2 linked regions of the Homo sapiens genome follow. The protein of the gene in region 1 purifies or fractionates together with the protein of each later gene. This does not show direct contact. Each region holds a gene or a part of one and is shown in the gene's direction. Other genes may lie near its edges.

The links.
Region 2: the proteins of RUSC2 (region 1) and KLC1 purify together in Homo sapiens (affinity purification with mass spectrometry, with the first as the bait; one study listed by BioGRID). This does not show direct contact.

The regions. Positions count from the first base shown.
Region 1 is NC_000009.12:35,492,790-35,496,616, forward strand, and holds part of RUSC2 (AP-4 complex accessory subunit RUSC2), read left to right. Parts: intron 1-3,827. UniProt on the Homo sapiens protein: Associates with the adapter-like complex 4 (AP-4) and may therefore play a role in vesicular trafficking of proteins at the trans-Golgi network.
Region 2 is NC_000014.9:103,635,387-103,639,213, forward strand, and holds part of KLC1 (kinesin light chain 1), read left to right. Parts: intron 1-3,827. UniProt on the Homo sapiens protein: Kinesin is a microtubule-associated force-producing protein that may play a role in organelle transport. The light chain may function in coupling of cargo to the heavy chain or in the modulation of its ATPase activity.

The DNA.
Region 1 (3,827 bases):
CTTCCCAGACTGAAACTCTGTACCAGTAAGATGCTAACTCCCCATTTCTCCCTACTCCGCCCCAGGCAACCACCATTCTACTTTCTATCTTTGAATTTGACTACTGGGGGTACCTCATATAAGTGGAATCATGCACTATTTGTCTCTTTGTGACTGGTTTATTTCGGTTAGCATAATGCCTTTTTTTGTTTTTTGGGTTTTTTTTTAACTTTTATTTTAGGTTCAGGGGTACATATGAGGGTTTGTTATATAGATAAACTCATTTCACAGGGGTTTGTTGTACAGATTATTTCATCACCCAGGTATTAAACCTGGTACCCAATAGTTATCTTTTCTGCTCCTCTCCCTCCTTCTACCCTCAAGAAGACCCTGGTGTCTGCTGTTTGTTTCTTTGTGTTTATACATTCCCATCATTTAGCTCTCACTTATAAGTGAGAACATGCAGTATTTGGTTTTCTGTTTCTGTTAGTTTGCTAAGGATAATAGCCTCCAGCTCCATCTATGTTTCTGCAAAAGACATGATCTCATTCTTTTTTATGGCTGCATAGTATTCCATGGTGTATATATACCACATTTTCTTTATCTGGTCTGTCATTGATGGGTATTTAGGTTGATTCCGTGGCTTTGCTATTGTAAATAGTGCTGCAGTTGGTTAGCATAATGTCTAAAGTTCATCCACTTTATAGCCTGTATCAGAACTTCCCTCCTTTTATTTTTATTTATTTATTTTTTGAAACAGAGTCTCCCTCCATCAACCAGGCTAGAGTGCAGTGGCACGATCTTGGCTCACTGCAACTTTTGCCTCCCAGTTCAGGTGATTCACATGCCTCAGCCTCCTGAGTAGCTGGAATTACAGGTGCACGCCACCACGCCCGGCTAATTTTTGTATTGTTAGTAGAGAGGGGGTTTCACCACGTTGGCCAGGCTGGTCTCGAACTTCTGACCTCAAGTGATCCACTAGCCTCAGCCTCCCAAAGTGCTGGGATTACAGGTGTGAGCCACTGCACCTGGCCAGAATTTCACTCCTTTTAAAGGCTGAATAATATTCCATTGTATGTATACACTATATTCTGTTTATTCATCTTTTGATGGATACTTTGGTTGCATCTATCTTTTGGCTATTATGAAAAATGCTGATGTGAACATGAGTGTACAGATATGTTTGAGTCCCTGCTTTTAGTTCTTGTGGGTATATACCCAGAAGTGGTGTTGCTGGATTGTATGGTAATTTTATGTTTATGTTTATTTATTTATTTATTTATTTGAGGAACCACTGTTTTCCACAGTGGCTATAGCATTTTACATTCTCATCAGCAATGCATAAGGGCTCCAATTTTTCCACATCCTTGGCAACACTTGTTTTCTTTTTTTTTTTTTAAATAACAACCATCCTAGGCTGGGCATGGTGGCTCACGCCTGTAATCCCAGCACTTTGGGAGGCCGAGGCGGGCGGATCACCTAAGGTCAGGAGTTCAAGACCAGCCTGGCCAACATGGTAAAACTCCATCTCTACTGAAAATACAAAAATTAGCCAGGCATGGTGGCGCACACCTATAATCCCTGAGGCAGGAGGCTGAGGCAGGAGAATGGCTTGAACCGGGGAGGCTGAGGTTGCAGTGAGCTGAGCTCATGCCCCTGCACTCCAGCTTGAGTGACAGAGCAAAACTCCATCTCAAAATAATAATAGTAATATAACCATCCTAAGCAGTGTGAAGTGATATCTCATGATTTTGATTCATATTTCTCTAATGAAAAGATATCGAGCATTTTTTCATGTATTTCATACCTATCGGCCATTTGTATATCTTTGGAGAAATGCCTATTCAAGTCCTTTGCCCATTCTTGGATTGGGTTGTTTGTCGTTGAGTTGTAAGAGTTTTTTAATACATTTTGGACATTAATCCATCTCAGATGTATGATTTGCAAATATTTTCTCCTATTCCATGGATTGCCTTTCACTCTGTTAAAAGTGTCCTTTGATGCACGAAAGTTTTTAAATTTGAAATCTAATTTATCTAATTTTTCTTTTGTTACCTGTGCATTTTGTCTTACCCAAGAATCATTGCCAAATTAAGTGACATGAAGCTTTCCCTCTGTTTTCTTGTTTTTTATATATAATATATATTATACATATTATATAAAATTTATATATAATATATATTATACATATATAAAATTTATATATATTATATAATATATATTTTATATATTATATATACTACAGTATATATTTTATATATTATATATACTATAGTATATATAATATATACTATAGTATATATTATATATAGTATATATTATATATACTATAGTATATATTATACATTATATACACTATAGTATATATTATACATTATATATACTATATATATATATTTTATTAAATATATATAATATATTTTATTATAATATAATTTATTATATATAAAGTATATATTTATATTATATATGATATATATAATATATAAAATATATTTTTTATATATTATATATATTATACATATAGTTTTAGCTCTTATCTTTAGGTCTTTGATCCATTTTGAGTTAATTTTTGTATGTAATGTAAGATAAGGGTCTAACTTATTTCATTTGCTTGTGGATATCCAGTTTTTCCAACACCATTTGTTGAAAAGACTGACCTTTCCCCACTGAATGGTATTCACACCCTTGTCAAAACTCATCTGACCAGATATGTGAGGGTTTATTTCTGGGCTCTCTAGTCTCTTCCATTGGTCTTTATGTTTATCTTTATGCTGATAAAACACTGTTTTGATTACTGTAGCTTTGTAGTAAGTTTGGAAAATCAAGAATGTAAGTCCTCCAACTTTGGTTTTCTTTTTCAAGATTGTTTTGGTTGTTCAGGATCCCTTAAGATTCCATATGAATTTTAGGATGGATTTTACTATTTATGCAAAAAACATTGTTGGGATTTTGATAGGGATTGTATTGAATCTCTAGCTGACTTTGGGTAATACTGACACCTCTAATGATAGCAAGTTTTCCAATTCATGATCACCAGATGTTTTTTCATTTATTTATGTCTAATTTCTTCCAGCAATGTTTTGTATTTCTCAGTGTACAAGTCTTTCACTTCCGTGGTTAAGTTCATTCCTAAGTATTTTATTCTTTTTGATGTTACTGTAAATGGAATTGTTTTAATTTCCATTTCAGATTGTTCATTGTTAGTGTTTAGGCATACAGCTGATTGGATAAAGTTGCTCCAAAACAGATGAAGAAAATTACACCAAAGCAAAAGAAGCATCAGAGAGTGATGAGCGAGCTAGTAACCAGAGAAACTCTCGAGTCAGTGGTTGAGTAAGCAGTGGAGGAGGAGGGCTTAGATCTAGACAGAGTCCGAACGAGAAGCATGCAACAAGTGGAGACCTACCTCGAGGCTGCAGAGGTTGAGGCATGAGAGAGCCAAACTTCAATCGAGCGGGTTCTCAGGAAGCTCTCAGAGAGGATCACAGAGAATCAACAGGAAACAGAAGTCTCTAGAGAAACTCGACTTAAAATTAAGTCAGGCAGTATCACCAGTTGAGCCATAAATAACAGGTTCATCTTCGTAGAAACAAAGCTCGGTGCATTAAATCTTCTTTTGTTTCTACAAAGGCTCCCCAAGGGTTGGCTAACCTTAGAGATGCTATGTCTCTTGCACCTGCAGTCACTTATCCCGCTCTATCAAGCTTGCACTTGGCCAGCCCATCTGCCCCTCCTGCTGAAGGTGATGCATGGGATCCATGCTCGGACTGTTGTAAACCAAGTTCTGTGATACGTCAATTCCTGGTGTTGTCCTATTTGAATATCCTAAATTTCCCATAAGAGTT
Region 2 (3,827 bases), on another chromosome or scaffold:
GGCTGAGGTGGGAGAATCAGTTGAGCCCAGGAGTTCAAACTAGCTTGGGCAATATAGTGAGACCTTGTTTCTTAAAAAAATAAAAGGCTGTGCTTGGTGGCTAATGTCTGTAATCCCAGCACTTTGGGAGGCTGAGGAGGGCGGATCACCTGAGGTCAGGAGTTTGAGACCAGCCTGGCCAACATGGGTGAAACCTTGTCTCTACTAAAAATATAAAATTAGCCGCGTGTGGTAGTATGCTTCTGTAGTCCCGGGTATTTGGGAAGCTGAGGTAGGAGAATCACTTGAACCCGGGAGGCGGAGGTTGCAGTGAGCCAGATCGAGCCACGGCACTCCAGCCTGGGCGACAGAGTGAGACTCCCATCTCAAAAAGAAAAAAAAAAAGTAAAATAGGTACTGTTACTGAGATTCTACTGTTGAGGAATTTGAGGGTGAGAGAGGGGAAGTTTCAGAAACCAAAGTTACACAGCTGTGAAGTCAAGATTCTAACTCAGTTTTTTTGCTTCGCGGTATAAGCTTTGAATCACCTTGCAGTACTTAAAGCTGCAGCTTCAAGTGAATCATGATAATGCTGTTTAATCCTATCATTACTTTTTCTTGGGGAAACCTCGCGCCACTTCAATTTTTTTCAAAGATGTACCATTTTAACCATTTAAAAGTTCACAATTCAGTAGTGTTAAGGATATGCACATCGTTGTTCCACATTTCTGGAACTCTTTCATCTGGCAGCGCTGAGACTGTAGCCCCCAAATACTGATATCTCCTCCTCCCTCGCCCTCCCCCGGTAACCATCTTTTCTACTTTGTTTCTATGATTTTGACTACTTTCAATACTTTATTTTTTATTTTTTTTGAGATGGAGTTTCACTCTTGTTGCCCAGGCTGGAGTGCAGTGGCACGATCTCAGCTCACTGCAACCTCTGCCTCCCGAGTTCAAACAATTCTCCTGCTTTAATTTCCTGAGTATCTGGGATTACAGTCATGGGCCACCATGCCGGGCTAATTTTGTATTTTTAGTAGAGATGGGTTTCTCCATGTTGGTCAGGCTGGTCTTGAACTCCTGACCTCAGGTGATCACCCCCCATCGGCCTCCCAAAGTGTTGGGATTACAGGCGTGAGCCACCGTGCCTGGCCTTGCCTGTCTTTTTCATCTGAGCCATTCTAGCGGGGTATAGTGGCATCTTGTTAGTTTTAATGTGCATTTCACTGATGACTCATAATGGTGAGCGCTTACATGCTTGTCGGTCTTTGTATGCCTGGATTTGTAAAGTGTCTGTTCAAGACTTTTGCCCATTTAAAAAATTGGATTGTTTGTATTTTTAAGTTCCTTACATATTTATTTATTTATTTATTTTTGAGATGGAGTCTCCTCTGTTGCCCAGGCTTGAGTGCAGTGGCGCGATCTCGGCTCACTGCAAGCTCTGCCTCCCGGGTTCACGCCATTCCCCTGCCTCAGCCTCTGGAGTAGCTGGGACTACAGGCGCCTGCCACCACGCCCAGCTAATTTTTTTTTTTGTTGTATTTTTATTAGATATGGGTTTCACCATGTTAGCCAGGATGGTCTCGATCTCCTGACCTCGTGATCCGCCCGTCTTGGCCTCCCAAAGTGCTGGTATTAACAGGCGTGAGCCACCACGCCCAGCAGTTCCTTACATGTTTTTTTTTTTTCAGATGGAGTCTTGCTCTTGCTCTATTGCCCAGGCTGACGTATTTTTTATACAAGCCGTTTGCCAGATATATATGTGTCGCAAATATTTTTTCCTAATCTATGGCTTAACTTTATTTTTTGGTAGTGCCTTTTAATAAATCAATACTTTTAATTTTTCTTAACCATGCTCTGGCAAGTTTTATTAAAGAAATTTTCGGCTGGGCGCGGTGGCTCACACCTATAATCCCAGCACTTTCGGAGGCCGAGGCGGGTGGATCATGAAGTCAGGAGTTTGAGACTACCCTGGCCAGTATGGTGAAACCCCGTCTCTACTAAAATTACAAAAATTCGCCAGGCGTGGTGGTGTGCACCTGTAGTCCCAGCTACTTGGGAGGCTGAGGCAGAAGAATCGCTTGATCCCGGGAGGCAGAGGTTGCAGTGAGTCGAGATTGCGACACTGCATTCCAGCCTGGGCAACAGAGTGAGACTCTGTTTCAAAAAAAAAAAAGAAATTTTCGCAGGGTTTATTTTTATCTTTTATTTTTTGTTGTTGCCTAAGCAACATCCGCTTTCCTTAATTCTGAAAGCATATCTATAAATAAGTCACCCAAAGGCCAAATAGATGCATTTGTTTTGTCTGGTTGTTAATGTTTTCTTTTTAAAAAAATATTTATGTATTTATTTAATTTTTGAGACAGGATCTTGCTCTGTTGCCTAGGTTGGAGTGCAGTGTCACAGTCGTGGCTCAGTGCAGCCTCGTGTTCAAGTGATCGTCCCACCTCAGCCCCTGAAGTAGCTGGGACTACATGTGCGCACCACCATGACCGGCTTGTTTTTTGTAGAGACAGGGTTTCATGGCATTGCCCTGGCTAGTCTTTAACTTCTGGGCTCAAATGATCTGCTCTCCTTGGCCTCCCAAAGTGCTGGGATTACAGACGTAAGCCACTATGCTGGGCCACCAAGATACTATTTATTTCCCTGAATATGACGTGGACTGTTCCTGTAGGCTGGTCCCTTCACCTCAGGACCCTCTTTGCTGGTATTGTTTGGGGCTTCTGCGCCTGTATATGGGGATGGGACCTGACCCTGCTGATCTGGCCAGCACTGCCAGGGTTTCCTGTTGCCCATCTCTCGGTAAAACATCCCTTATAAACCTTTGCAAGGAAAAAACCTCTGTTTTCTTCCCTCCATCCCATTTTTCCTTAATGTGCTACCCTCGTCTGTATTCATAGGAACTTTATTTAACACTTGAGAACTGAGAGTAATTGACATTTCTTTCTTGGCTGTCCTTCATTCTGTGCACCCAGACCTATTGCTTTTTCTACCACATTCTTTTTCTCTTTTAGAAAATTGAAATGTAAGTCACATCACATCAAATGCCCCATTTTAAAGCGTGCAGTGCAGTGATTTTTAATGTATTCTCTGTTTTGTGCAACTACCATCTATCTAATTCCACACATTCCTTTTCCCTTTTTAGTGCTTGGTGTTTTTTTTTTTTCTTAACTTTCTTCATCACTGTAAGCTTTCCCCACCTGGCTGAATTTCACATGATAAAACCAGGGGAGGTAAAGTGACCAAAGATGATGCCCTTTGCTTCTCTGGCCTTTGCTTTCATTTCATTAATTTTTTTTTTTTTTTTTTTTTTTGAGTCAGAGTCTCGCTCTGTCACCCAGGCTGGAGTCTGGGTGTATATGTATGAACACAGTGGGGTGTGTGGGTGTGTGTGAACATAGTGGTGTGTATGTATGAACACAGTGGGGGTGTGTGTGCGTGAGCACAGTGGTGTGTGTATGTATGAACATAGGGGTGTGTGTGAGCACAGTGGTGCATATGTATGAACATAGGGTGTATGTGTGTGAGCACAAGGGTGTGTGTGTGTGTGTGCGTGCATGCAGAGTGGTAGGGTTCCTGAAGCAGAGGGACACTTGGGGCAAAGAGACCTTGGATTGTGTTCTTCTTGTTGGTAGAATAAGCTTAAATCACTTCATGTATCCCAGTTTCCTCAGCTGTAAATGGGAATTATAATGATAGGTCATCAAACTACCTGCAGACTTTTTTTGTTGTTATTTCGATAAAATATTACACATTTGAAAATGCTCCCAAAACTAACATATTGGACAGATGCGAATTCTTCTTTCCTTTTTTTTGAGATGGAGTCTTGCTCTGTTGTCCAGGCTGGA